Homo sapiens: one gene and its partners. The protein of the gene in region 2 interacts with the protein of the main gene of each other region in a pairwise test. Each region holds a gene or a part of one and is shown on either strand. Other genes may lie near its edges.

The links.
Region 1: the proteins of POGZ (region 2) and KLHL26 interact in binary tests that used the Homo sapiens proteins (3 or more experiments, as listed by UniProt).
Region 3: the proteins of POGZ (region 2) and ZXDC interact in binary tests that used the Homo sapiens proteins (3 or more experiments, as listed by UniProt).
Region 4: the proteins of POGZ (region 2) and NFYA interact in binary tests that used the Homo sapiens proteins (3 or more experiments, as listed by UniProt).
Region 5: the proteins of POGZ (region 2) and TBX19 interact in binary tests that used the Homo sapiens proteins (3 or more experiments, as listed by UniProt).
Region 6: the proteins of POGZ (region 2) and ODAM interact in binary tests that used the Homo sapiens proteins (3 or more experiments, as listed by UniProt).
Region 7: the proteins of POGZ (region 2) and CRX interact in binary tests that used the Homo sapiens proteins (3 or more experiments, as listed by UniProt).

Annotation. Positions count from the first base shown.
Region 1 is NC_000019.10:18,639,226-18,643,527, forward strand, and holds part of KLHL26 (kelch-like protein 26), read left to right. Parts: intron 1-4,302. UniProt on the Homo sapiens protein: May play a role in endo(sarco)plasmic reticulum (ER/SR) mitochondrial signaling. May be part of the ubiquitin-proteasome system (UPS) and affect ubiquitination and degradation of target substrates in cardiomyocytes.
Region 2 is NC_000001.11:151,424,888-151,429,189, reverse strand, and holds part of POGZ (pogo transposable element with ZNF domain), read left to right. Parts: intron 1-776; coding exon 777-1,067; intron 1,068-1,148; coding exon 1,149-1,367; intron 1,368-4,128; coding exon 4,129-4,235; intron 4,236-4,302. UniProt on the Homo sapiens protein: Plays a role in mitotic cell cycle progression and is involved in kinetochore assembly and mitotic sister chromatid cohesion.
Region 3 is NC_000003.12:126,468,864-126,473,165, forward strand, and holds part of ZXDC (zinc finger protein ZXDC), read right to left. Parts: intron 3,443-4,302; coding exon 3,290-3,442; intron 3,189-3,289; coding exon 3,110-3,188; intron 2,163-3,109; coding exon 2,032-2,162; intron 1-2,031. UniProt on the Homo sapiens protein: Cooperates with CIITA to promote transcription of MHC class I and MHC class II genes.
Region 4 is NC_000006.12:41,082,775-41,087,076, forward strand, and holds part of NFYA (nuclear transcription factor Y subunit alpha), read left to right. Parts: intron 1-1,271; coding exon 1,272-1,418; intron 1,419-4,302. UniProt on the Homo sapiens protein: Component of the sequence-specific heterotrimeric transcription factor (NF-Y) which specifically recognizes a 5'-CCAAT-3' box motif found in the promoters of its target genes.
Region 5 is NC_000001.11:168,311,383-168,315,234, forward strand, and holds the end of TBX19 (T-box transcription factor TBX19), read left to right. Parts: intron 1-1,325; coding exon 1,326-1,620; 3' UTR 1,621-3,044; downstream 3,045-3,852. UniProt on the Homo sapiens protein: Transcriptional regulator involved in developmental processes. Can activate POMC gene expression and repress the alpha glycoprotein subunit and thyroid-stimulating hormone beta promoters.
Region 6 is NC_000004.12:70,198,281-70,202,258, forward strand, and holds part of ODAM (odontogenic ameloblast-associated protein isoform 1 precursor), read left to right. Parts: intron 1-298; coding exon 299-346; intron 347-1,821; coding exon of another isoform or gene 1,822-1,830; exon of another isoform or gene 1,831-1,869; intron 1,870-2,216; coding exon 2,217-2,321; intron 2,322-3,173; coding exon 3,174-3,221; intron 3,222-3,977; coding exon 3,978-3,978. UniProt on the Homo sapiens protein: Tooth-associated epithelia protein that probably plays a role in odontogenesis, the complex process that results in the initiation and generation of the tooth. May be incorporated in the enamel matrix at the end of mineralization process.
Region 7 is NC_000019.10:47,834,924-47,839,123, forward strand, and holds part of CRX (cone-rod homeobox protein), read left to right. Parts: intron 1-1,319; coding exon 1,320-1,471; intron 1,472-4,200. UniProt on the Homo sapiens protein: Transcription factor that binds and transactivates the sequence 5'-TAATC[CA]-3' which is found upstream of several photoreceptor-specific genes, including the opsin genes.

The DNA of each region.
Region 1 (4,302 bases), on a different chromosome or scaffold from region 2:
CCACCATGCCTGGCTAATTTTTGTATTTTTTAAGTAGAGACAGGGTTTCACTGTTGGCCAGGCAGGTCTGGCATTCCTGAGCTCAGGTGATCCACCCGCCTCGGCCTCCCAAAGTGCTGGGATTACAGGCGTGAACTACTGCACCCAGCCAATTCACTCATTTTAATTTATCATTAAGTTTTTTTTTTTTTTTTTTTTTTTTTTGAGATAGAGTTACTCTGTTGCCCAGGCTGGAGTGCAGTAGTGTGATCTCGGCTCACTGCAACCTTTGCCTCCTGGGTTCAAGCAATTCTCCTGCCTCAGCCTCCCGAGTAGCTGAGACCACAGGTGCATGCTACCATGCCCAGCTAATTTTTGTATTTTTAGTAGAGACGGGGTTTTGCCATGTTGGCCAGGGTGATCTTGAACTGCTGACCTCAAGTGATCTGCCCGCTTCAGCCTCCCAAAGTGCTGGGATTACAGGTGTGAACCACTGTGCTCAACCCAGGTCATTAAGTTTCAGTACATTTACTGAGTTGTGCATCCTTCACCACAATCCAGTTTTTTGGAATGCTTCCATCACCCCAAAGAGTTCCCCCAAGCTCGTCTGCAATTAACCCTGCTCCACCAACATACAGCCCCGGGGACATCCTGATCTGCTTTCACTCTCTGTAGCTTTGCCTTTTCTAGAAATTTCGTAAGAATGGAATCAGACATGTGGCCTTTACGTCTGGTTTCTTTCCTTAACATAATGTTTTTGAAGTTCATCTGTGTTGTTGTATCAGAAATTTGTTCTTTTTCACTGTGGAGTGAAAATAAACAAACTGTGTCCGTCCATACAATCTCGTATGGACGGACACAGTTTGTTTATCCATTAACTGGTTGATGGACTGTTGGGTTGTTTCCATTTTGACAACTGCAAATAAAGTTGCTGTGAACATCTGGATATGTGTCTCTGTGTGGACGTATATTTTCATCCTCTTGGGTAAATACTTAAGAGTAGAATGACTAGTTCATATGGTAGATGTGTTTAAATTTCTTTTTTTTTGAGACAGGGTCTCACTCTGTTGCCCAGGCTGAAGTGCAGTGGTGCAATCACGGCTTACTGTAGCCTCTACCTCCTTGGGCTCAGGTGATCCTCCCACCTCAGCCTTCCAAGTAGCTGGTAGGTACTACAAGGGCGTATGCCACCACACCCAGCTATTTTTTCTGTGCTTTTGTTGAGACAAAGTCTTGCCATGTTGCCCAGGCTGGTCTTGAATTCCAGGGCTCAAGCAATCTTCCCACCTCTGCCTCCCAAAGTGCTGGGATTACAGGTGTGAGCCACTACGCCTGGCTATGTTTTAATTTTTTTTTTTTTTTTTTTTTTTTTGAGATGGAGTCTCTCTCTGTTGCCCAGCAGTTGTTCACTGCAACCTCTGTCTCCTGGGTTCAAGTGATTCTCCTGCTTCAGCCTCCTGAGTAGCTGGGATTGTAAGGATGCGCCACCACACTCAGCTAATTTTTGTATTTTTAGTAGAGACGGGGTTTTGCCATGTTGGCCAGACTGGTCTTGAACTCCTGACCTCAGGGGATCCGCCTGCTTCGGCCTCCCAAAGTGCTGGGATTACAGGTGTGAGCCACTGAGACTGGCCATGTTTTAATTTTTAGGAAACTGCCAAGCTTGTTCCCAAAGTGGCTGTACCATTTTGCATCCCCACCAGCAATGTTCAAGAGTTCCAGCTCCTCCTCATCCTCACTAACACCTGGTATGGCCAGTCCTTAGTTTTAGCCATTCTTATAGGTGTGTGCTGGTGTCTTCATTTGGTGTTTTTATTTATTTATTTATTTGTGAGATGAGGTCTCACTCTGTCGCCCAGGCTGGAGTGCGATGGTGCGATCCTAGCTCACTGCACCCTGGAACTCCTGGGTTCAAGCAATCTTCGGGCCTCAGCCTCTGGAATAAGTGGGATTACAGGTGTGCACACCACTGTTCCCAGTCTTATTTTGGTTTTAATTTGCATTTCTCTAATAACTAATGATGTTGGACAGTTTTTCATGAGCTTCTTAGCTATTCATCTCTTTGGTAACGTGTCTTTTCAAATGTTTGGGCCATTTTTAAGTTGGGTTGCCTTTTTTTTTTTTTTTTTTTTAAGACTGAGTCTCGCTTTGTTGCCCAGGCTGGAGTGCAGTGGTGCGATCCTAGCTCATTGTAACCTCCACCTCTTGGGTTCAAGCGATTTTCATGTCTCAGCCTCCCGAGTAGCTGGGATTACAGGTGCATGCTACCACACCCGGCTAATTTTTGTATTTTTAGTGGAGACGGGGTTTCACCATGTTGGCTAGACTGGTCTCAAACTCCTGACCTCAGGTGATCTGCCTGCCTCAGGCTCCCAAAGTGCTGGGATTAGAGGCATGAGCCACCACACCCGGCTCTTTTTCTTTTTTCTTTTTTTTTTTTTTGAGATGGAGGCTTGCTCTGTTGCCCAGGCTAGAGTGCAGTGGCGTGATCTTGGCTCACTGCAACCTCTGCCTCCCAGGTTCAAGCAATTCTCCTGCCCCAGCCTCCCGAGTAGCTGGGATTACAGGCGTGTGCCACCACACCCGGCTAATTTTTGTATTTTTAGTAGAGACGGGGTTTCTCCATGTTGGTCAGGCTGGTCTCGATCTCTTGACCTTGTGATCTGCCCGCCTCAGCCTCCCAAAGTGCTGGGATTACGGCGTGAGCCACCATGCCCGGCCCTCTTTCTTAAAAGACATCTTTGTCATTCTCCCCTATCCTCCATCCTAGTGAAAAATCACTGTTTGGAGCAACTGATAGGGGCATCTCATGCCTCAGGTGCTAGTGTGGGGAGAACCCCTAATGTGGCAAGATGGAGCATGCAGAAAATGGATCATATTTTGAGGGAGATTGGTACAAGACATTCTCCCAAAAGTCATTTTGAGACATTGAGTCTTTGTAGCATTGTTCGTCTGTTCCTTCATTTATTGCAAATGGGACAGCCAGGCCTGGAGCACGACCCACCTCCTCGCCTCAACCTGCCCACGTCTCCTTCCTCTTCATCCTTCCACTCTCCAAGGTTCTGGCCCCTCAGAGCCACCTGCCTGACCATGCAAGCTCAAGTAGTCCCCAGGACACTTTTGCTAGTCACCTAGTGTGTGTGTGTGTGTGTGTGTGTGTGTGTGTGTGTGTGTGTGTTTGAGATGGAGTTTCGCTTTTGTTGCCCAGGCTGGAGTGCAGTGGCATGGTCACTGCAACCTCCACCTCCCGGGCTCAAGCAACTGATTCTCTTACCTCAGCCTCCCGAGTAGCTGGGATTACGGGCGCCTGCCACCAAGCCTGGCTAATTTTGTATTTTTAGTAGAGGTGGGGTTTCTCCATGTTGGCCAGGCTGGTCTGGAACTCCTGACCTCAGGTGATCTGCCTGCCTGGGCCTCCCAAAGTGCTGGGATTACAGGCGTGAGCCACTGCGCCCGGCTTGTGGTTTTTTGTTTGTTTGTTTGGTTTGGTTTGAGGAAGAGTCTCACTCTGTCGCCCATGCTGGCATGCAGTGTCGTAGCTACCTGCAGCCTTCTTGACCTCCTGGGCTCAAGCTATCCTTCTGCTTCAGCCTCCCGAGTAGCTGGGACTACAGGCATCTACTAACACACCTAATTTTTTTTTTTTTGAGACATTGTCTCATTCTGTCGCCCAGGCTAGAGTGCAGTGGCACAATCTGGACTCACTGCAACCTCCACCTCCTGGGTTTAAGCGATTCTCCTGCCTCAGCCTCCTGAGTAGCTGGGATTACCAGTGCACGCCACCACGCCCAAATAATTTTTGTATTTTTAATAGAGACGGGGTTTCACCATGTTGGCCAGGGTGGTCTTGATCTCCTGACCTCGTGATCCACCTGCCTTGGCCTCCCAAAGTGTTGGGATTACAGGCGTGAGCCACTGTGCCTAGCCCACACCTGACTAATTTTTAAAAATTGTTTTGGGCCGGGCGCGGTGGCTCATGCCTGTAATCCTAGGACTTTGGGAGGCCGAGGTGGGCAGATCACTTGAGGTCAGGAGTTTGAGACCAGCCTAGCCAACATGGTGAAACCGCTTCTCTACTAAAAATACAAAAATTAGCCAGGATTGGTGGCACGTGCCTGTAATCCCAGCTACTCGGGAGGCTGAGGCAAGAGAATCACTTGAACCCGGGAGGCAGAGGTTGCAGTGAGCTGAGATCGCTCCACTGCGCTCCCACCTGGGCGAGAGAACCAGACTGTCTTAAAAAATATATATATTATTTTATAGAGATGGGGTCTTATTATTATTTTTTTTTGAGATAGAGTTTTGCTCTTGTTGTCCAGGCTA
Region 2 (4,302 bases):
AAATACTGTCAATGACTAGATAGTTTTTTTTTTTAAGATTCTGCTAGATAGTTTTTTTTTTTTTTAAGATTCTGAGAAGGATAATTTTTTTAAAATCTTAGAATTTTCCATTGCTCTATTTAGCATGTATAAGTTTACTACAATTCAGACCAAAAAAGAGTATCTTAATTTAGCTATTTGTAAGGGTACCTCTGTAGCTTGTCTTCCTAAGGTTTTGTTTTTTGTTCTCGTAGCCCATAGGGGTTTAAGTCTGACCAGCTTACCCTGGCATTTCTTTATTTTTCTCAGTGGAATTGTCTACAGTTGAGCCAGGAGACATTCCTCTTTGGGACATCCTAGTAGAATGGCATAGTCTGTCTTCTGAGTTGATAGAAGAGGATGGAAGACTCCTTTAGTACTCTGAGAAAGACTGATTTCTTTTTTCAGGACCAGGTTTGCCATTTGGCCTATATACACCCATATTGCTTCCCACTCTTTTCTTCCAGTACCGAGGTCAAGCCACTGATTGTATTCTTAGAATTAAAAAGGCAGTGTGATAAGGTGTTTTAGGAGGAGTTGATGGGAGTCTTATTTAACTTAATGTTTTTAGGCTGCCCAGGTTATTTTGTCAACATGGACACCTTGTGCTTTCTTAGTCTTTAGAATCTATACTCCTCTTGGAAACCTCTGATGATCATCCATCAGTTTGGGGAAATAATCTTTCCAGTAAAGGCAGGGAGAATGTGTTATAGGTGAGCTCACTGACCAAGATCTGGTACTTTGTCTCTCTTTTAAAGCCCCAGGTACCCAGTTTGTTAAGCCGACAGTTGGAGTTCCACAAGTGTTCTCCCAGATGACCCCTGTGAGGCCAGGCTCCACAATGCCTGTGAGGCCCACCACCAACACCTTCACCACCGTCATCCCGGCCACTCTTACCATTCGAAGCACCGTCCCACAGTCCCAGTCCCAGCAGACCAAGTCCACTCCCAGCACTTCTACCACTCCCACTGCCACACAGCCAACCTCACTGGGGCAACTAGCTGTTCAGTCTCCAGGCCAGTCAAACCAGACCACGAATCCCAAGCTAGGTAAGGCTTCGGAAGAGGAGATGGCAGAGCCAGGTTGGGATGGTGGGTGGAGAACAGATGATTATCACTTGGTCACCGTAGCTCCCTCCTTCCCCTCTCCACCTGCAGTGAGCATTGCCAGCTTTGTCACTGTGAAGCGACCTGGTGTTACAGGCGAAAATAGCAATGAAGTGGCCAAATTGGTGAATACCCTTAACACCATCCCTTCCCTGGGCCAGAGTCCTGGGCCAGTGGTGGTGTCCAACAACAGCTCTGCTCATGGCTCTCAAAGAACCAGCGGACCTGAGTCTTCAATGAAAGGTACAATAACCTGAAAGACTCTGAGCAGCCAGTCATTCAAAAACATTAATAAAGTGTTTGTTGTATCAGAGCTTTATACTCAGAAATAGAAAAATAAAATAAAATACAGCTGCTGTAGTTTGTTCTTACAGAAACTTTAGTAAGGAGAAAGCCACTTACAAAAAGTGTAACTGAATCAGCTCCAAGAAATTATGTGTGTAATTGTGCTTTGGAGATTAGTGAAATTGATTGATTAAAGATGGGTGAGATAATGAAAGATAACTTCATGGAAGAGATGGATTTCTGAGCAAGGTTTTAAAGTTAGGATTTGGTAGAGAGATCTTCAGGTTGAGAATGATGAGCATGAGGGTTTTCAGTGGTCTAGAGCAGGGGTCGGCAAATGTTTTCTGTAAAGGGCCTAGTAGTAAAGTTGTAGGCTTTGTGCACAATATATAGCCTCTGTTGCAGCTATTAACTGTGCTGTTGTGGTGGGGAAGCAGCCACAGATACATAAACGAATGAGCATGGCTGTGCTCCACTAAAAACTATTTATGGACTCTGAAATTTAAGTTTCATAAAATTTTCATGTGTCGAAAAGTTTTATTCTTTTATTTCAACCATTTAAAAATAAAAACCGCAAGGTATAGTGGCTCACACCTCATCCCAGCATTATGGGAGGCCAAGACGGGAGGATCACTTGAGCCTAGGAGTTTGAGACCAGCCTGGGCAACATGGTGAGATCCCATCTCTACAAAAAAAAAAAAAAAAAAGATTAGCCAGGCGTGGTGGTGTATGTCTGCAGTCCTCGCTACTCAGAAGTCTGAGGTGAGAGGATGGCTTGGGCTTGAACCCAGAAGGTTGAGCCTGCAGTGAGCCATGAGCATGCCACTGCAACAGAACGACACCCTGTCTCAAAAAAAGTAAAAACCTTTAAAACATGGTGTTGGGAAAACTAGATATCCATGTCCAAAAGAAGTTGGATCTTACCTTACAATAAATACAAAAATTAACTCAAAATGGATCAAAGACCTAAATGAACTAAAACTATAAGACTCTTAGAAAAATTATAGGACAAAAAGCTTCATGATACTGGATTTGACAGTGATTACTATTTCTTGGATATGACACCAAAAGCATACGCAAGAAAAGAAAAAATGAGTAAATTAAATTATATCAAAATTTAAAACTTTTGTGCAGGACGTTGTCAACACAGTGAAAAGGGAAGCCACAGAATGGGAGAAAATATTTGCAAATTATGTATCTAATAAGGGGTTAATATCCAGAATATATAAAGAATTTGTGCAGTTCAACAACAAAAAAACTCCCAAACAACCTTTTTAAAAAATAGACAAAGGACTCGCTGGTCGTGGTGGTTCATGCCTGTAATCCCAGCACTTTGAGAGGCCAAGGCAGGTGGATCACGAGGTCAGGAGTCCAAGACCAGCCTGACCAATAATGGTGAAACCCCGTCTATACTAAAAATACAAAAATTAGCCAGGCGTGGTGGTGTGTGCCTGTATTCCCAGCTGCTCGGGAGGCTGAGACACAAGAATTGCTTGAACCTGGAAGGCAGAGGTTGTGGTGAGTCGAGATTGTGCCACTGCACTCCAGTCTGGGCAACAGAGAAAGACCCCATCTCAAAAAAAAAAAAAAAAGTAGGAAAGTAGGCAAAGGACTGAATAGACCTTTCTCCAAAGAAAGTTATTGCCAATAAGCTCATGAAAAGGTGCTCAGTGTTATTAATCATTATGGAAATGCAAATCAAAACCACAATGAGGTACCGTCTCACTCCCATTAGGATGGCTACTATCAAAGAACCATAAAATAACAAATATTGTTGAGGATGTGGAGAAAGCAGAACCCTTACGCACTGTTGGTGGAAATGTAAAATTATGCAGCCACTTTGGAAACAGTATGGTGGTTCCTCAAAAAGTTAAAAATGATAGAATTGTTGTATGCTCCAGGAATTCCATTCTATACCCAAAAGAATTGAAAGCAGGGACTAGAACAGGTATTTGTACACCTATGTTCATTGCAACATTATTCACAATAGCTGAAAGGTGAAAGCAACACAGAGGTCCATCAACTGATAAAGGGATAAATAAAATGTGGTATTCACATACAATGGTATATTGTTCAGGCTTAAGAAAGGAAATTCTGCTACAACATGTGCTGCAACATGGTTGAACCTTGAGGACATTATGTTAAAGTGAAATAGGCTAGTCACAAAAGGACAAGTACCATATGATTCCACTTACTTGAGGTACCTAGAGTAGTCAAATTCATAGAGACAAAGTTGAATTGTGGTTGCCGGGGTGGAGGCGAGGGGAGAATGGTGAGGAGGTTTTTATTGGATATAGCTTCAGTTCTGCAAGATTAAAAAAAACAAAAACCTTAACAAAAAAATCACATACAAATTATTCTTAGCTTATGGGCCAAACAGAAACTGGTAGCTGGGCTGGATTTGATCTGTGTGCTGTGGTTTGCTGACCCCTGGCCTAGAGTTAGAACAGTAAAAGGAAGCCTCAAACATAGTGATCTTGAGCCCAGGGAGGTCAAGGCTGCAGTGAGCTGTGGTCGTGCCACTGCACTCCAGCCTGGGCAACAGACTGAGAGACCGTGTCTCAAAAAAAACAAAAACAAACAAAAACCATAGTGATCTCTCATGCTTGCTTACCCTTTTATATACTTCTCAGGGAGTGTTTGACTTTTTCCCAAAAGGTCAGTAATCTTTTTCCAGTGTCATTGTATTAATCTTATCAATTCTTCTCACTTCTTTCAGTGACCTCTTCCATCCCAGTATTTGACCTCCAGGATGGTGGACGGAAAATATGTCCACGATGTAATGCTCAATTTCGTGTTACTGAAGCTTTGAGAGGTCACATGTGTGTAAGTGATATCACCTGTGATCCAGCTTAAGTGGCTTCTGCCATTTACCTTCATTAATATTGGAAGC
Region 3 (4,302 bases), on a different chromosome or scaffold from region 2:
CCACTGTGCTGTTGCTGGTCCTGCCAGTACCCGTCCCAGCCACTCCACCGGAATCTGGGGCAGCCCCAGGGCTCTGTCCTAGGTCCTTTTTAAGAAAATCTAACAGCAATCACAACAACGACAGTAACTGACATATATACTGATGTTTTCCATATGCGCTAAACTTAGTAACCAATCCAGCCTTCTCAACAACCCTGGGAGGTTTTATTCACTTTACAGATAAGGAAGAGGCACAGAGAGCTTCAAGTGTTTGTCCGAGGCCCCAGACCTACTTACGTGGCAAACTTAGGACTCGAATCCAGGCAGTCTGACTCCAGAATTCAGGCTTTTGATCAACTACACTACCCTGACTCTCCTCCATTTATACTCTTCTTTGAGAATTTCATCCACTTTTGTGGCTTAAATGATGATTCGGGTGCTGTCTGCTTCGCTCCCTGCCTGGCCTGCTCTCCCCAGCACCAGTGGCACATCCCCTGCCCTCTGCGCATTAGACGCACAAGGGTACCAAAAACACAACATGTCCAAACCAAACTCTGCTTCCTCCAAATCCACTCAGCTGACACACTGACATCAACTAAAATCCAAATCCATCACCATATACTGTGACTTCTAACTCCCACCTCTGCTATTGATGCCCCTTTCTCTTTTCCCACTGTTAAGGCCCCCGTCCAGGCCATCCCACCTCCCCACACCCCTGGCTGCTTTCAATCCTGAAGCCAGGCTAAGCCACAACTCAAACATGATGACATCATACGCTCACCCAAGCACTCAAGCCTGCCACTCCTGGCCCTGAGAGGCTCTCCCAGGCCACTCCGCCTCCAACACCCACACGCACGTGTCTGGTGCTCTCCCCTCTTCTTCAGCTGACCGCGAGGCCGTTCTCACCCCGGTCTGGGGAAACTCTCTGCGCCCCTGCAGCACCCTACATGTTACCTGTTCCCCTGTCTGCACCTCCAGCTGAAACTCTGACGGAAGGAGGAACTGTTTCTCAGTTACACCACTTGTATATATGTTCATTATGTTCTAAGAGCTAGGCTCAGCTTTAAATGGGTCTTTATTATTCTCTCTTCCAGGTAAGGAAACCAAGGCCCAGAGAAGCAGCTTGACTGAGGCCACCACTTTAGGGAGCGGTAGAGCCAGACTTTGAATCCATGACCACCCGACGTGTCCTGGCTCACTGCCTCCCAGTGCACCTGCAGAACTAGAGTAGGGCCAGCACGCACAAGTCACGCACAGGTCACGCAGCCAATTTCTGGCAAATGAACTGAGCCTTCAGTGTTTTAAAGGAAAAAACCACTCTACTATACCTTTTAAAAAGTCAGGTTGGGCGTGGTGGCTCACACCTGTAATCCCAGCACTTTGGGAGGCCAAAGTGGGTGGATCACTTGACGTCAGGAGTTTGAGACCATCCTGGCCAACATGGTGAAACCCTGTCTCTACTAAAAGCATAAAAATCAGCCAAGCGTGGTGGCATACGCCTGTAGTCCCAGCTACTCAGAAGGCTGAGGCATAAGAATCACTTAAACCTGGGAGGCAGAGGTTGCAATGAGCCAAGATCACACCATTGCATCCAGCCTGGGTGACAGAGCAAGACTGTCTCAAAAATTAAACAAAAAAAGAAAAAGTCAGTCTAGCTTTACTGCTCTCCAATTACAAAATGATTGGAGTGACAATTCAAACGTGATCTCAAAAGTACCTACCATTTACTGAGTCCGAGCTCCATGCCAGATGGATAAACAGGCATTTTCCACATTTCACCTAATCCTCACGACCACCAAATTAAACAGGTAACTTAACTAGAGCCACAGATCTAATGAGGATCAGGGCCATGAGTCAAACTGCGTCTGATTCTCAAGTCACTGCTCCCAAAATAGTACAATTAACTCAATGAGGTAAGTAAACATAATGCTGCAACTTATATTGAGTCAGTCTTTAAGCAGCTAACATTTACCTTTAAACAACGGAAACTTAACAGGATAAATGTTGGCATTGCACTTAGTTTACTGCTCAAAGCAATGTTTTAAAATCTACCTTCCACAGGACACTCGAACGGCTTTGTGCCTAGGTGGGTTATGCTGTGGCCTTTCAGATGCTCTGCTCTGGTGAATGATTTCCCACAGCCCTCGACAGGGCAGGTAAACCTCCGGTCATCGTCATGTTTCCTGCCAGACAGAAAAATAAAGGAGCTGTGATTCCTCACACAACTCACCATAATTCTTTAAAATTCTACAAAACATACCAAAACACAAACTTTGCATTTACAAAAATGATCAGTACATTTCGGAAAATCTTAATTCTGTCTTTAATCCATGTGAGCAGATTTGCAATTTAGCTACCCCATAAAAATTCTACTTTAATGACTAAGCTGACCCCAGAGTCACACATCAAACAATTAATGCTACTTCAATCTAATATAAGCTAATCTAAGAACAGTGGAGTCCCAAATGTATTGATGAAGGTGTTTCTATTGTTTAGAAACCCCAATGATCAACAAGCTTTCCGAGCGACAGACGGTCGTGAGAAATGTGCACAGAGCATCAGCTGCAATGCCAAAAGGACTCTCTTAAGCCAACTTGTAAAGACTGTGTCTTTTCCTAAGTGACATTTTTATATTAAATCCTCAGAGCCCAGCTGTGCAAGTACAGAAAAACCACTGAATCTCTCCGAGTCTCACTGTAAAACAGGGAGAATAAGAACATTAGCTTTGAGGTTGTTGGGAAGGTAGAAGACACACATGTAAAGTGCTGAGTGTCACCTGGACACAGTCTCCAGGGTTGTCATTACCACCATGAAAACTTGTAATTACATGAAGAAAGCTTATTCTACAATGTTAAGTTAAAAAAAAAACCTGGAATTGTTTTTTTTTTAAGAACAGAGTATGCCAATTTAGCTTTTTTTAAAAAAAGTATACACAGAAAAAACTGACTTCAGGTGATGAGATTCTGAGCAATTTTCTTTTTACAGTTTTCTGAATTTTCCAAATCATCAACACTGAGCTCCTTTTTTAACAACTTAAAAAATGTCTACAGATATTTCATTCATTGGTTTCTGCTGCTGACAAACCACTCATTTTCAAACCTGATAATGCAAACCAAAATGTAAGGATTACCTTCTGTGCCTTAGAAGTTTGGACATGCTGGTGAAGGTCCAGCCACAGCTGTCAGAGTCACAAATAAATGGTCTTTCACCTTATAAAAGAAAAAATTATACAGCATAAAATTTACAACTCCAACAGCTACGATGAAGACAAATCTTGGGTCCAAATGCTGTGCGTTCCCTAGCTCATTACCTGTATGGCTCCGCAGGTGAATTTTCAGCCGACAGGCTTTATCATACTGCTTGCTGCACCCAGGAAAGGAGCAGGAAAAGAGCTCTTGTTCCCTGAAGTGGGCTCGGTTATGGGAAAACAGGGCACTCACTGTGATAAATGTCTTCTCACAGCCTGAACAAGGAAAACACAAACCCTGCTCAAAGCGTGGCAAAAATTATACAACATAGCTAATGCTAGTCACACCCACCAGACCCTGTTCACACTGAAGCAGACAAGGGAAAACATGACTCAGAAGCACTCTCTAAAAAGGGAAGACCATTAATGCTTGGCTTTGTGATCACCACAGGAAGGCAGCTAATGGCAGCCAATAGGCACACGCTGGCCACCTGTTGCAACATGACTTGGAGATGGAGCAACCGATAAAGAGAAAGTCCTCCGTTCACAGCCATCTACTGGCCGGCTCCGGAGCACTGATCCTGCACACACACTGAGACCCAAGAACCCCATGAGAGAAATCAAATACTAAGGAACAAGATTTTGTCTGGTAGGGTTGATCTTTGAAAGGCTACAAATCATCCTACTAGCCAGGATTTTTCACCCCTTGGGGGTGATGCTGCATCCTCTACATATCCAAATTTCCTCCCTGACACCCTCCAACTGCCAGCCCTGTCCCTTGCTGTTTGGATTCTTTTTCCTTTCGCAATTTCCTTAGGTTCCCTGCTTTGTAATCTTCACCTCAATCCTAACCCCTGGCCAAAGCAGCTAAGCCTCAACAATTCCACAGCAATACTTCTCCTCCGACAGAAACATTCAGGGCTCCAACAGGGTGGAAAACATGAGGCTGCAGGATGTTTAACAGGAGTCTTTGCTGCAGCTCCTCTTGGAGCCTTTAACGAGATACTATCATGCCTATGAACTGCCACACAGATGTACATGGCATAGCACTGCCCAAAAGTATCAGCCCAAGGAACCCTACTTTCCCCAGCAACATCTAACTCAGAAATGCTGATCTTTGGCCTCAATCTGGTCCC
Region 4 (4,302 bases), on a different chromosome or scaffold from region 2:
TTGATTTGGAATGGGGAAATAAGGGAAAGAGATAGCATGAGAGAGTCAGGCTGTAAAGTCCTTAAAAAAGTAAAGTAAAGGTTCTCAATGGACAGTTTAACAAAACTTAGGATTTCAATGTTCCTGGTGATTCTAATACATTAGTGGTGGTGGCAGTGGCGGCGGTGGTGGTGGTGATTGTAGGAGGACCTTACTATCTAACCTACTCATCTAGGACAGAATGATCTGTTAACTAATTGCTGTTACTTGCACATACTTTCATTAAGTGTGAATATTTCAGTCATGAATATTCTGTTCTAAGTAATTTCTGTCAAAGATAGAGTCTGAAAATGAAAATTTTGGACTATTCCATGGATCATTACAGTTTACTTCTAAAGCACTTTTAAAGTGCTTCCAGAAAGCATTCTATTAGGTATTTTTGTATTGGGACTTAAGATGTGACAGAGCACTTGTAGTGACCTGGCTCCTACAGTAGTCTGTTTACTCATAGGAGCTTGAAATTTGTACACTTGACTGCTCTGTGTAATTTCAATATTTGTTGTTGCTTCTGATAAAGCTAAAATAACCATGTGGATATTATAGAGGCCAGTGAGGAATTCCACCATGGAGACTGCAAACTGACCAGAAAGTGCTTTTAAGAAATCTTTAGTAGTGAGTTTAAACAACAAACATATCTAGAATTCACAGAGTAAAATGAGCAGGATAAAGGTATACATTTGACATTTCATTTTAGCTTGAGAGACTGTAGGGAAAAAAGGGTCATCCTCTACATAAGCTTCCAGAGCTGCTTGCTACCCAGCCTCCTAGAGTCATTGCTGGGTACAGTTTGATTTACCTTCTTCACTTTATTTAGAATTTGTACTCAACCACCATCACCACCATCACCTTTCCCTCTCATTGCCTTCTCTCCAGCCTTCACTACAGACCATTCCTGGATTGGTTTAAACAGGCAACTAACCTTGCCATTATGATTAAATGTTTGTCATGGATTTAGCCCGTGTTTGGTGACAAATGCCTTATATCTATTGAGACTTCTCAAAGACTCTGGATATTCTCCATTATGTCTGACCTTAAAGTATTGAGCTTGGCATTTAGTAACAGGATTCATAGATATTTAAAGATAACTTGAGGACTTGAGACATATATTTTCTTAGTCTTTTCTACCTTTTCCTTTTCTAGCAAGGCAGCAGAATAGTTCCAGTGATTGTCTTTTGGTAAAAACCATTTTGTGTCTTATGTTATTTCATTGTTCTTATTTTATTTCATTCTAGGTCCAAGGGCAGCCATTAATGGTGCAGGTCAGTGGAGGCCAGCTAATCACATCAACTGGCCAACCCATCATGGTCCAGGCTGTCCCTGGTGGACAAGGTCAAACCATCATGCAAGTACCTGTTTCTGGAACACAGGGTTTGCAGCAAGTGAGTAATATTTAAAAATATTGAGCAGTATATCAGAGGAGAGGTTTCAAAGAATAGATTATTACAACCTATTTGATAATTGATATTGCATTTAACTGCTTCCTAACCCACATTTTGCATTCAGTTGATTTTCTGCCTTTATAGTACCAGTGATATAAACTAGAACTATGCAGAAATTGGACAGCTCCAGTAATGACTAAGATATTAGGCATGATCTTGAATTGCTGTAAAGTATATGAAGAGGTTAGAATCTAGTTTATAGTATATTTTATTTTAAAAGAAACAAAAATGAGTATTTAGAAAGTTAGAAAAATAACAAAACGAGCAAAAAGTGGGTCCAAATTAATTAAGTAGAAAACTGACGTATAGAAAGGATAAATAAAATCTAGATTGTTTAAGCAGACCAATAAAACAGGTAAATCCAGTTGAAACACTGATTGAGAAACAGAAAACAAAAGTAAGCAAAGATGTAGAAGAGATTAAAGGAAGGCCAGGCGCAGTGGCTCATGCCTGTGATCCCAGCACTTGGGGAGGCCAAGGCAGGTGGATCACTTGAGGCCAGGAGTTCAAGACCAGCCTGGCCAACATGACAAAACCCCATCTCTACTAAAAATAAAAAATTAGCCGGGCGTGGTGGCACGCACCTGTAATCCCAGCTACTTGGGGGGTTGAGGCATAAGATATCTTGAACCCAGGAGGCGGAGGTTGCAGTAAGCCAAGATTGTGCCACTGCACTCCAGGCTGGGCACCAGAGCAAGATTCTGTCTCAAAAAAAAAGAAGAGATTAACAGAAATATGTAGAAATGTTACATACAACTCTGTGGCATCATATTTTAAAATTAGATATTTCTCATCGAGATGGCAAAAAAAAACAAAAAGTCATTATATCCACTGTTAGGATGGATGTGGAGAAAAAGAATTAATCATTATTTTTGGTAATTTAAAACTGTAGAGTTATTTTGGAAAGGCACCTCACTATCTGTTAAATACAATGAATATTTGAGCTAGCAGTCCCACTTCTGAGAATCTGTCCTATAGGAAGAAAAGCATCAATAGTAGGGGGAAATTACAAAGACACTTTTCATAGCATTGTACTAGCAAAAAATAAAATTGCAATCTGAGTGTCCATTAATAAGAATAAGGAAATGGTTGGAATAAATCATAATATATTCATAGGGAATATTGCATCATCATTAAAAGAAATGAACTGTTGACTTGGGGTGGGTTAATATTGAAATATTTTTAGTGGAAATAATTTGCAGAGAAATAGTGTGTGATCTCATCTTTGTAATTCATAACCAACCCCCCATGAGTATATGTTTATAGTCATGGAAAAGAGAGTATGAGATAACTATTAGTTACTCTATCTAAATGTTTATATTGTTTCAACAGTTACAGCAGTCATATTAATGTCTTAGTTTTCTGGAGGAATTTAAGTTGAAAAAAGCAGCCATGATCCCACTGCTCATAAATCAAACTTGTACTTTTTGTGTATTCTTTTGTGTTTTTATGCATAATTTTTGGGCATAATTGTACCATGCATGTGGGGTTGTGTTTTCATTTTTTTTTTTTAATTCTTTCATAATGTTCAGTCAACTTGATGAATCAGAATTTCTAATTTATAAAATATAGTTAAGGATTTTGGTTTTCATTTGCCTTTGTAGGTAAACATTTGGGCACGATAGTTTTATTTTTCAACTGAATTCTCAGGATAATTTCTTTGGATTGGGGATTGCTTGGGTAAAGGGTAAGAGTATATTTGAGCCCACTGGCATATTTTTGCCAAGATAGAATTGTACTTGGGATTAAAAATAGTTTTCACATTTCTCTTTGCATAAATATATGAGGCTTTAAATATCTTTTCAGCATGTGCTTTCCTTGATTCCCTATTGCTATATCCTTTCTGTTCTTCTCTCTTTGCTTCCTCTCCAGTCCCCCTTGCTGCGCCTTCTCCACTGTTGAGTAGAGACAATGTGGTATAGTTAGGAACAGTATACTGTGAGTGTAGTGGTCCAAGCTTTCATTACCAGGTCTGCCATTAAATAAGCATTCTGATCTTGGCCAAGTTATTTAATTGTCGGTTTGCTCATCCAAAAATAAAATTTATATGAGATGATATCTAGGGTTCATTCTAGCTCTAAATTCTGTGATTTTTATGGGGTTTTATTTTGCTATAAGGAACCTTCAAATAGTTATTTCCCTGCTTCCAAGTAGGGCTATAACTAACCAAGCTGAAAAAAATATATTCTGTTACGTAAATAAAGCTCTCTAGGTGAGATTCCATAGCCTCCCTTACAATACTTAAGGCTTTAATCCCCTTTGTATAGGAGTTTTTTTTCTCATTAGTGTTGAGTAGCCATTTTTTAAAGAAGACTACTTCTTAACCTTTTTTGAATTGTATTCTCTATTTTAGAATCCTAGTAAAGCTTGCACCCTCTAAGAAAAAGTAGAGATGTCCAGTCTCATGAAAAATTCTGCATATAATTTTAGATTAAAATCCTTGGCCTGAGAAAGATACTGGAACCAGAGAGACAGCCAAGAAATAGATAGAAGAATATTGGAAGTTGGCATATAATAAAAGTGGTATAAACATATCAATGAAGAAATGGCTGAAGAATGATACAGAAAAGAAACTGATTTCTAATTCATACTGTATTTTAAAAAATATTTGCTAGGTGGATTAAAGATCTAAATGTAGAAAAGTAAACTTGGAAAATTCAAAAGAAAATATAAGAATTTTTATGCTATAGAGAAGGATATTTTTAAAAACAAATTGACTAAAACATAATATGCATTGAAATACATCAAATAAAAGTAAACAAGGTGAAAACTTGGAAAAGATATTTTTAATACATACAACCGAGTTTGTATTCAGAATATGTAT
Region 5 (3,852 bases), about 17 Mb from region 2:
CACTGGCCCAGGAGGCATCAGAAAGGGTCTGTAAGAGATAATGTAGAAGAGCATCTTCTGAAGATTGGGGCCAGAATCCCCATAAGCTGAGCTAGCTCAGAGAGAGCTCAGAGGATGGGCTGCTGAAGGTTTCATATGGTCCAAAGAGGCCTGTAGCATTGAAAAATGGCACCAGGTGAAGGATGGCATTGCCAACTCTGGCTTCCCTGTTGGTGTGTTTAACTCATTCCTGACTCCATAAATATTTTGTTAGAAACAAAACAAAACAAATGTATTCAATATTGCCATTGGATAATAAGCATATTATCAAGCAATACAGTGTTGGGCAATGCAGAAACTCTAAAATGTAAGAAACATAGTGATGACTACAGGCCGAAAACATTGGGTTCATTGCACCTGTTCCAACTGCATCTATATTAAGGTGCAAGCTTGGCTGTACATTACAGTCACCTGGGAAACTTAAAAAAATCCTCGTACTCAGGCTGCATGCCAGATCAGTTCAATCAGAATCTCTGGGGCAGGGGAGTGGGGTGAGAGTGGGATCCAGGCACCAATATTACTTTAAAAACCCCCCCTAGTGATTCCAATGTGCCGAATGTGCAATCAAGTGTGTGAACCTGTGCTACAGAACTAGAGAAGGCAAAGAAAATGTTGTAGCTCCCAGCCTTTCAGCCAGGCACCAGAGCTCACAGGCGGAGACCAGGAATGGAAGAATTAATGTTAACAACCACCATTTACTGAGTACTACATGCTAAGGACCATATACTCCTCTTATTTAATCCTTGTAGCAATCTCTGTAAGGTAGGTAAAATTATGAATCCACATCTTGAAGATGAGAAATTGACACTCAGAGATATTAAATAATCTAGCCAAGGCCACAGAGCTAATTAAGTGGTAGAGCTGGGATTTAAACTTAAGTCTTCTGACAGTGATGTTTCCTGGTTATTATGCCACATTGGCCAGGGAGAGATCATATGCAGAAATCATACAGTTTTAATACCTTTTTTTCTACTGCCCTGCCAATTTTACATAGGCTGCAAGGGAGCCCAGATAAATGAAATTCTGTGTCTAAAACCAAATAATTCGCTGGTGGCCGGGCCAGTACCAGAATACTTAATCTTATCATTATTCCACCATACTTTGCTGCTTCTCTTAGCTTTTCTGCAGAAACAGGACCAATCTGCGTCATAGCTAGAAATAAAGCCATGGCCAGAAGCCCTCCTGTAACCATGCCCTTCTCAGCACTGTGTACATGCTTGTCAGGTGGCACTCCTTCCTTGGAGTGCCAGTGAACATTCCCTTCCCCTCTTTCTCTGTCTCTGCAGCCCCTACCCGTGCCTGTGGACCATCAGCAATGGTGCCGGAGGCCCCAGTGGGCCAGGCCCGGAGGTGCACGCCAGCACCCCAGGAGCATTTCTCCTCGGAAACCCAGCTGTGACTTCACCCCCTTCTGTGCTCTCCACCCAAGCACCCACTTCGGCTGGTGTGGAGGTTCTGGGGGAGCCCTCGCTAACCAGCATTGCTGTGTCCACCTGGACAGCAGTGGCCTCGCATCCCTTCGCGGGCTGGGGTGGCCCAGGAGCGGGTGGGCACCATTCTCCTTCCTCACTGGATGGTTAAGCAGGATCCTAGGAGCCTCTTTGCACAGCGATCCTTCCATGTGTAGAGTGCTTAGAAACCCCATCAACTGATCTAGTGAGTCAGACTGTGGAATCTCCCTTCCCACTAGCTGGAGGTGGAGGTGGGTTATTACAGAAGTCATACTGGGAGAGGGTTCAGTTTGGATGATGCTAGTTAGATCATTTGCATCTCTCCACCATTTTCTTCTGCACTCCCATTTTCTCTGCAGCTTATTCTTGCCATGCTTAGGTGACAGAAGTTTGTTAAGTACCATCCTTGTGCCCTGCCTCTTATTCTCAAATCGTTCTGGAAAGCCTCACTTCCTTTTCTGTGGAGAAGGTGCAAAGCTGTTAAATGAGCTCAGAGTTTACCTAGCTAAGGCCACTGCTTCCTGCTTTGTGAAGCCTGGAAAGTATGTGTGGCCACAGGGCTCAGGTTCACACTTCTGCTTTGAGACCAGGATGGGGTGTAAGCCATAGAGTAAGGTTAACAAAAAGAATAAAGCTAATCATGTATTACAAACAGCAGTGTGCCCAGACTTGTGGAAATGAAGTCATGTCACTCCTCTGCTCAGAAACCTTCAATGGTTCACCATTACCAGTGGAATGAAGTCAATTCTCCTCACTATAACTGGGTGTGGTAGTTTAAGCCTATAATCTCAGCCCTTTTGGAGGCCAAGGTAAGAGGATCGCTTGAGGTCAGGAGTTCGAGACCAGCTTGTGCAACAAAGTGAGAGCCTGTCTCTACAAAAAATAGTCATGCACACAAAATTAGCTGGGCATGGTGGCCTGTGCCTATAGTCCCAACTACTTAGAGGAGGATCGCTTGATCTCAGGAGGTTGAGGCTGCAGTGAATTATGATTGTGGCATTGCACTCCAGCCTGGGTGGTAGATCAAGGCTTTGTTTCATTTGAAAAAAAAGAAAGAAAGAAAGAAAGAAAGAAATCCTACTACGAGCGATCACACCATCTGGCCTGAAACCACTTCCCCAGCTTAGGTCCCTCTGTTATCCTGTTGGCCTCCTATGTATTGGTCAAGGCAGGCATCTCTGTTCTCTGAACATTCATTGCACTTTCCCACCTCTATACCTTGCCTGTGCCTTAGTGTCCTCTTTTTTCCAGTTCACCTGTGCGAATCCGACCCACCTCCCAGAGCCTGGCTGAAACGTCACTCCCTGCATCCAACATCTGATCTGCTGAGATATGTCTGATCTATCTCTGCTCGCTGTTCTCCCGTTGTTTTTGCCTCTGCCATAGAGCTCACCTCATTTTGCCTTGTATTTTTGTTACCTGTGAGTGTGTCTCTCCCTATTAGACTGTAAGCCTCTCGAGGGTGAGGCCTAGCCTTCTTGTCTTTGTAACCCACAGCAGCTGGTACTGTGCCTTGCCTATTGTAGGTGCCCAATAAACATTTGCTGAACTGAATTGGTGTAATGTGCATGTGTGCTACAAGGACGGTGTGAAGTGGCTGGGGGGCAGATCTCAGAGACACATGCCCCATGACACATAGGTGCATCCGTGTGGGAGCCTAGGAACATGCTGGCTGTTAGTTACACGGGCTTCTCATCTGAGGCACCACCAATTGTCAGTGAATGACAATCATATATGGAGACAGGGTGTGTTAGAGTGGTTATTCCCAAATACTGGTTCTTGGATCCCCTAAGTCAGGATCACCTGGAACAGGGGACCCTTGCTAGACATACAGATTCGTGGGTATACCCCGTACCTGTTGGATCAGAATCTTTGGGGCTGGCGTTCAGGAATCTGCATTTCAAACAAGAGCTCCAGGCATTGGCCCTGGGCTAGGTTTGGAAACTCCTTGCCTAGAAGAGAGAAACAGGATGATAAATACTCCAGGAACCTTATTTCAGATGAGTTTTTACCTCTGCCCCAGCCAAGGTCATTGCTATAACCCGTGAGCAGAATCAGTTTCGTGAGTCTTCCTCCTCTTTTTCTACCTACTACTGGATGTGCTAATAACCTTGGGAGTGAGGTTTCCAGACCTGGGTGATGAGCAGTTCTCCAAACATTGACTTTAGACTGCACTGGCTGAGCAGCCCTTCTCAGGGCCGCCACTTGAGGAGTCTAAAGTTCCACTTGGAGCCTAGCATTGGCTCAGCTGCTTCCACCACTATTCCATCAGCTGAACCCGTGCAAACCCAGCCCACTCCAAGGCTTAGTCTGAGGGGTCCAAACATGGTACTATTGAGTCCTTGGCTCTTTCTATAGCGAA
Region 6 (3,978 bases), on a different chromosome or scaffold from region 2:
TTCTACCATCGCTGTAAGTTCTTTCTTTTATTTTCTGATTTCTAAGACAAAAAATATTTAAATCAGCTACTCTAGGATACAGCAACAAGCCAAAAAAGTTAAAAACAAGTCTAGGATAAGATAGGAAAACTTCAATAATAGGCAGTTTATGTCAGCACATGTAACGGATGACTTTTTGTTGTGGAAACTTGTTAACACAAAGGATAAATTTATATGGCTAGCTCTAGGAAAAGCAGCTCAGGGATTTTTAAATAACAAAGTCAAGCATACATTTTTATATAATTCTTTTTTTTGGCAGGTGATGCCCTATGTATTCTCCTTCAAAATGCCTCAAGAGCAAGGACAGGTAAATGGATATAACAACACTGCCCATAGAGATGGCTACATACACTCTCCACAATGCTTTCTATTTCTAGCTCTGACTCCTATAGCAGGGCTATAAAAACCTATATAATGATATCACTGTCTAGATAACATCATTGCTGGGCTAGTATCAGTTTGTTGATGTTGGGCTCACTTAACAACTCCTTAAGGACAGGCAGCTAAGTAGAGTCTCCAGGACCCCTGAATTTCCAGGGCATTGCTATGTTGAGAGTAAAAGAGCTCAGTAAGCCCCAGGTCATGTCCTCTCTGCATCCAAAGTGCTGGAAGTTGGGAAAAACTCAAGAGAAATACCATGGGCTGACTTTATCCAAATTTAAATTTTGCTTCAGAAGGAGATGCACTAAGCTGATAATATATGATATGATGTAGAGATAAGAAACACTTGCCCATGTTATTTGGCTGTTATGAAATTCTGCTCAAAACATTTTAAGCTTCTTATACATTTCCAATTTGAATCCATATTACAATCAAATGGTAATTTTTTCCATTAAATAGGATAATCTTTTAAAAATGAATGCAAACTAGTATAATCATCATATTAATATGGAAAACCCTATAAATATCAGGATTATTAATTTTACAATATTCTGGGTTCAAAGAAACAGTATTATAAATAAATTATATTACTCATCACAGAATATTGGCCTTTTCATAAAAAGTTACAGCATTTGACTCTACTGTAATTATAACTAAATAACTTTGTCCCACATCCACTCCCATTATAAAACAAAAGTTACTTCTAGACATTATCTCATTCTATGACATAAGCATTTAAAGAATTAGATGTATAACTAGAATTACTTCATCTTAAGAATCAAGAAACCTAGTCTTAATGAGATCAAATTCCTCATCCCATTGAAAGTAAATAGCTGAGTTGGAATATAATTCTCCACCCCTTCTGTCTCCTTTAACCATGAAACCAGTAGCTCTCCATCCTGGCTTTACATTAGAATCTCTGGTGTTTGAAAATTACAGACGTCTGAACCCTACCCCAGTGAATCAATACCCCATGAATAGATGTTAAGTTTGGTCATCTTCTAAAATGCTCAAATGTGAGTTTGATTCTTAGCCAGGATTAAGAATGCTTGCACAAAATATAATCCTCCTGAAACCCTAGTTGTTTTTTTTAACTTCATGTCTAATACAATCTCTTACTTTATGCAAATAAAAACAGCATACAAAAATTAACATATGTACTAAGATTCTCATTTTCTATGAACACATACACAAATAAACAGACACAGACATATAAGTAGAAGGCAATGATAATATAAATGGAAGCCACATGGTAATGTAGGTGGGGAAGTTTCAGATGATTTCATTTGTTACTTGTCTATGTCTTGATTTACCAAATATCCTAAAATATATATGGATTATTTTAATAAAGTAGCAATTCTTAAAGGCAATACATTCATAGCATTTCATTTATTATGGCAGAACATCTAATACCACATTCTGCAGAATGATGATTCTCAAAAATATAGGGTAAGTGCTACATAGGCTATCTTTCACTTAGGTATTTGCAAAGTAATTTGTATATAAAGTTTCTAAGATGTCCTTTGAAAAAAAAAAAAAGCTCTTCTGCTTAGTTCAACCCACTATTTCCTAAATGTGTTTGCCCAAGCAACCTTAAAAACCAAGTCCAGTATTACCTGGGATACAAGTTGTTTCCAAAGTTTGGGAAGGGATTCTTCATCTATTTGCTTTGTATTTAATCATATAAAGCTGCTAGACATAAAACAGCTTTTAAATAAAATTGACATTAGAAGATAAAAAGTATGTCCTATGCTGATTTAATGGAATCTCTTGTATCCTTCTCTTTTTACAAGTAGATGTTTCAATACTATCCAGTTTACATGGTCCTACCCTGGGAACAACCTCAGCAAACAGTTCCAAGGTCACCTCAACAAACAAGACAGCAACAGTATGAGGAGCAGGTACTGCAAATGTTTTATTTTAATCCTACTAGTTCCACTTGAAAATAGAGAAAATAAGGTATATTACCATAGAAAAAAAGTTTCTGAGTATATTTAATGCAAACACTCAACAGCATGAAACAGGTAGGCATAAGAGGGTAGGTATAGTGTTCTCGGCTATAAATCATTTGTGTAAACTTATTTGGTAATATTCCAGGGCTGGATTTTTAGCCAATGAAATCAGTAAGTGGACTTCAATAGAATCAAGGCCAAAAAGCTGAATAACCTCGAAAAGTGAAGTTTTCTCACATTTAAAATTTACTAGCATCCACCTTTCCACATATGTGTGTGTGGTTACTATTTAAAAATAATAAATGGCAAAAATATTAGCTACCTTGATGAAAGATATATCTGATCACTGGATTTTGAGATACAATTAGATACCATTATATTAAATTTTGTGAAACTGCAATAAATTTTTAGAATTCTAACATAAATTCAGGTGGCTCATATATTATTAACATCCTTCCTGTTAGAATGAAAATGTCTTTTTTTTAGTTTAATCATAACTCTAAAACCTGGCATTACAAATTAGAGAAAACTCAGAATTATGCTTTAAAAAACTGGTAGTATTAATTCTAATTGTCATGTTGCTTTAAAGGGAAAGAGAGAGTTTTATCCTAGAAATGATATGGTATTAAAAAGATTCTTGTTAATTTAACAATAATTAATTTTTAGTTACTGGAACATATAAACTTTAAAAATGCTTTTAACTTATATAAAAAGATATATAAGTTTAAGTAATCATTTACTGCAAACTTACGACAAGAATAATCACAGAAAATATAATACATTTTTTAAAAAATCTGACAGATACCATTCTATGCTCAATTTGGATACATTCCACAACTAGCAGAACCTGTAAGTAAATGCATATTTTTCATTAAAAATATTTTGAAACTACTTCCTTCATTGTCTACTAAATCTATCAATGCCCTTCAGCCAAAGATGACCAGGAGCGCACCTCTAATTGAACAAAATTGTATGTATCCACTCAGTACAAGGAGGAGAACACACACGTGGGGATTCTTGGGTGTCTTAATAGGAAAGTATTAGAATGACTTCTCACATGATTTGGGCTTCTTTTAGGTAATTTGGGGAAGATTGCAAAGAAGTGGTTGTTCACTCTGCAGTGGCTATTCTCAAAAGTAGGGTAGCTCTATGATTATTTTAAAAGCTCATTTCTCTAAGGCAAGGATAGTGGAGCAAGGTGAAAGCTTTAATGGGTAAAGAAGCATCAGTCGCTCATATTAGCCAAGATGTGAGAACACCTGGTATTTTCGTAACTTGTATGGTGACCTTACTTCAGACAAAATTTTGAAATTGTCTTGTTTTTTCCACCCCTTCTGATGTTGGTGTTCTGTAGAATTCTTTATGCTCAACAGGTAAGTACCTGGTCCTAGTAGAGAATGTTAGAAAGTAGCACTTTCAGAACAGAAGCAGAGGCGAGATGTCAAGCCAGTTCTCTAATAGCAAAAATTAAACTATTATTTCTGTTTTTAGCAAAATAATTTAAGAAGTTTGGGAGTGTTTTACTACTCTGGTACTCTGGGTGGCCAAAGAGCATATTTTCAACGATCACTGATTTAGACTTTTTAAAACTTTTTGTGTTTTTAGG
Region 7 (4,200 bases), on a different chromosome or scaffold from region 2:
CCACCTCAGCCTCCTGAGTAGCTGGGACTGCAGGTGTGAGCCATTGTGCCTAGGCCCGGGGGGCACTTTTTTTTTTTAATTTTATTTTTGAGACAGGGTCTCACTCTGTTGCCCACTCTGAAGTGCAATGGTGCAATCACAGCTCACTACAGCCTCGAACTCCTGGGCTCAAGCGATCCTTTTGCCTTGGCCTCCCAAATAGCTAGGATTACAGGTGCACGCCACCATGCCTGGCTAACTTTTTTAAGTTTTTGTAGATTTTGCAGGATCTGGATTATACAAAACATAGAAAAAATTATTATTATTTTTTTTTTTGTAGAGATTGGGTCTCCCTATGTTGCCCAGGCTGGTCTCAAACTCTTGGGTCCAAATAATCCGCCTGACTCAGCCTCCCAAAGTGCTGGGATTACAGGCATGAGCCACTGCACCTGGCCTGCAAAGCCTTATTTCTTTTTCTTTTTTTTTCTTTCGAGACACAGTTTAGACGGAGTTTCGCTCCTGCCCAGGCTGGAGTGCAATGGCGCGATCTTGGCTCTTTGCAACTTTTGCCTCCCAGGTTCAAGTGATTCTCCTGCCTCAGCCTCCCAAGTAGCTGGGATTACAGGCGCACACCACCATGCCCGGCCAATTTTTGTAAAGCCTTATTTTTAAGAGAAGTGAGTACTCAGTTATTTGTAGCATTATTCTTTAGCTCTTGTTTTTTTTTTTTTTTTTTTCAAGACCGAGCCTTGTTCTGTTACCAGGCTGGAGTGCAGTGGCATAATCTTGGCTCACTGCAACCTCTGCCTTCTGGGTTCAAGCGATTCTCCTCCCTCAGCCTCCCGAGTAGCTGGGACTACAGGCATGCACCACCACACCTGGCTAATTTTTTGTATTTTTAGTAGAGACAGGGGTTCCCCATGTTGGCCAGGATAGTCTCAATTTCTTGACCTTGTGATCTGCCTGCCTCAGCCTCCCAAAGTGCTGGGATTATAGGCGTGAGCCACCGCACCCAGCCCAGACTTGCTACTTTTATAGGCTAGAAACGGTTGAATGTCAGCAATGTCATGCTTCAACTGATTATGTCTTAGTGCATAAGAAAGTTTAGAAGAGGGAAAAACGACTCGCACACCTCCTTGTTGAGCTAAAGCCTTGGGGTCAGGCATGAGCCACAGAGTGCCAGGCACACAGTGAGGTGTAGAAGGGCAGGGAATGTGTATTCCATCCTTAGTTTAGGCAGATGGCAACCAGGATGGAATTCTTGGCATCCCACCCAGCCTCAGGGCCTCACACCAGCCCATGTGGATGACCTGAGGGTCCTGTTTCCCATCCCACCCCAGGCGCCCCCAGGAAGCAGCGGCGGGAGCGCACCACCTTCACCCGGAGCCAACTGGAGGAGCTGGAGGCACTGTTTGCCAAGACCCAGTACCCAGACGTCTATGCCCGTGAGGAGGTGGCTCTGAAGATCAATCTGCCTGAGTCCAGGGTTCAGGTGGGGTGGTGGGTCCCTGGACCCCTCCCGACACTTCCTGTGATCTCAGGAGGCCTGCCCGGAACAAAGAGTGATGGGAGGAGGGAGAGATCACAGAGTGACAGCCAAAGTTATAAAGGGGACAATAATCCCTCTCCCCACCATCCCACTGACCGCCTCATGGCTCTCATTGCCCCTCGCTCCTCTCCAGCTGCGCTGGCCCTGACCTGCCTGCCAAGCACCCTCCTGCCTTGGGCCTTTGCACTCAGTTTCCTCTATCTGGAATGCTTATTTCCAGATAACCACACAGCAGGCCCCATCGCCTTGTTCGAGTCTTTGCTTATCCATCAGTGAGACCCACACTGAACACAGCATTTAAAATTGCATATGATTTACATATGGTATCTCAGAGTCTGTTTATTTAGACTCTGTCTCTCCCAACTAGAATGTCAATTCCACTGACGGACACTCAGAGTAGTAGAAAATGGTTAATACATGTTTATTAACTGACTGAATAGACGGATGGATGGATGGGTGGGTGGATGCATAGATGAATGTATGTATGTGTGACTGTAGGTGTGCGTGTGCATGTATGACTGGAAGCATGGATGAGTGTATGTATGTGTATATATGAGTGTCTGTGTGTATGATGGGATGGATACATGTATATATGTGTGTTTGCATGAACGCACATAGGTATGATTAGATAGATGATGAATGTATGCATGCATGATATATGTATACGTGGTGTATGTGCACATGTATGTATACATGCTTGCATGATTGGATGGATGGGTATATTTATTTATTTGAAATGGAGTCTCGCTCTGTCGCCCAGGCTGGAGTGCAGTGGCATGATCTTGGCTCACTGCAACCTCCGCCTCCTGGGTTCAAGTGATTCTCCTGCCTCAGCCTCCTGTGTAGCTGGGATTACAGGCGTGTGCCACCACACCGGGCTAATTTTTGTATTTTTAGTAGAGATGGGGTTTCACCATGTTGGCCAGGCTGGTCTCAAACTCCTGACCTCAGGCAATCCTACTGCCTCGGCCTTCCAGAGCGCTGGGATTACAGGCGTGAGCCACCGCGCCCGGCCGGATGGGTGTATTTATGTATATATGAGTGTATGCATGTATATATGATTGGACTGATAAATAAAATGTGTGTGTTAGTATGATTGTATATAGGTATGACTGGATGGATTAATGTATATGTATGCATGATGTATGTGTGTATGATGTATGGGTGTATAATTGTATATTTGTATGTTTGTATAATCAGATGGATGGATGAACATGCATATGATGTATGTATGATTAGATAGATCCATTAATGCATGTATGATGTATGTGTGTATGACCTATGTTTATATAATTATATGTATAAGATGGATGAATCTATGTATGATGTATGTGTGTACAATTGTATGTATCATCAGATGGATAAGTCTATGTATGATGTATGTATGATCAGATGGACTGGTGAATGTGTGTATGACATATATATGTGTGAGGTATGTATATATGATCAGATGGATGTCTACATAATGTATGTGTGTATGGTGTATGTATGTATAATTGTATGCGTGTATGTTTGTATGCTGTAGGTATGATGTTACATATATGTGCATACACACGTGTGTATGATTGGAAGGATAAATGAAATATGTATGTTTGTGTGATTGTATGCACATATGATTAGATAGATTAGTGTGTAGCTATGTATGCTGTATGTGTGTACAATGTATGTGCCTATAATTGTATGTTTGTATGTCTGTATGATCAGATGGATGAATATGTATATGATGTATGTATGATCAGATAGCTGGATAAATGTATGCATGATGCATGTGTGTATGGTGTATGCATGTATAATTGTATGTATGTTTGCATTAGATGGATAAATGCCTGTAGGTATCATGTATGTACGCATACATGCATGATTGGATGACTGGATGGGTTTATTTGTGTATATATGAGTGTACGCATGTATATATAATTAGATGGATAAATGAAATGTGTGTCTGCATGATTGTATGTATGGATTAATGTGTATATATGTATGATGTATGTGTGTACAATGTATGTATGTATAATTGTATGTTTGTATGATCAGATGGATGGATGAATGTGTATGATGTATATATGTATGATCAGATGGCTCCATTAATGCATGTATGATGTATGCGTGTATGATGCATGTACACTTGCATGTATGATCAGATGAGCCAGTGAATGTATGTATGATGTATATGTGTATGATGTATGTATGTATGATCAGATAGATGGGTAAACGTATGCATGATGTATGTGCGTATGGTGTATGTATGTATAATTGTATGTGTGCATGTTTGTATTAGATGGGTGGATGAATATGTGTATGATGTATGTATGATCATATAGATGGGTAAATGCAGGCATGATGTATGTGTGTATGGTGTATGTATGTATAATTGTATGTGTGCATGTTTGTATTAGATGGATGGATGAAAATGTGTATGATGTACGTATGATCATATAGATGGGTAAATGTATGCATGATATATGTGCGTATGGTGTATATATGTATAACTGTACGTGTGCATGTTTGTATTAGATGGGTGGATGAATATGTGTATGATGTATGTATGATCATATCGATGGGTAAATGCAGGCATGATGTATGTGCGTATGGTGTATGCATGTATAATTGTACGTGTGCATGTTTGCATTAGACGGATGGGATGAATGCACATGGGTATGATGTATGCATGT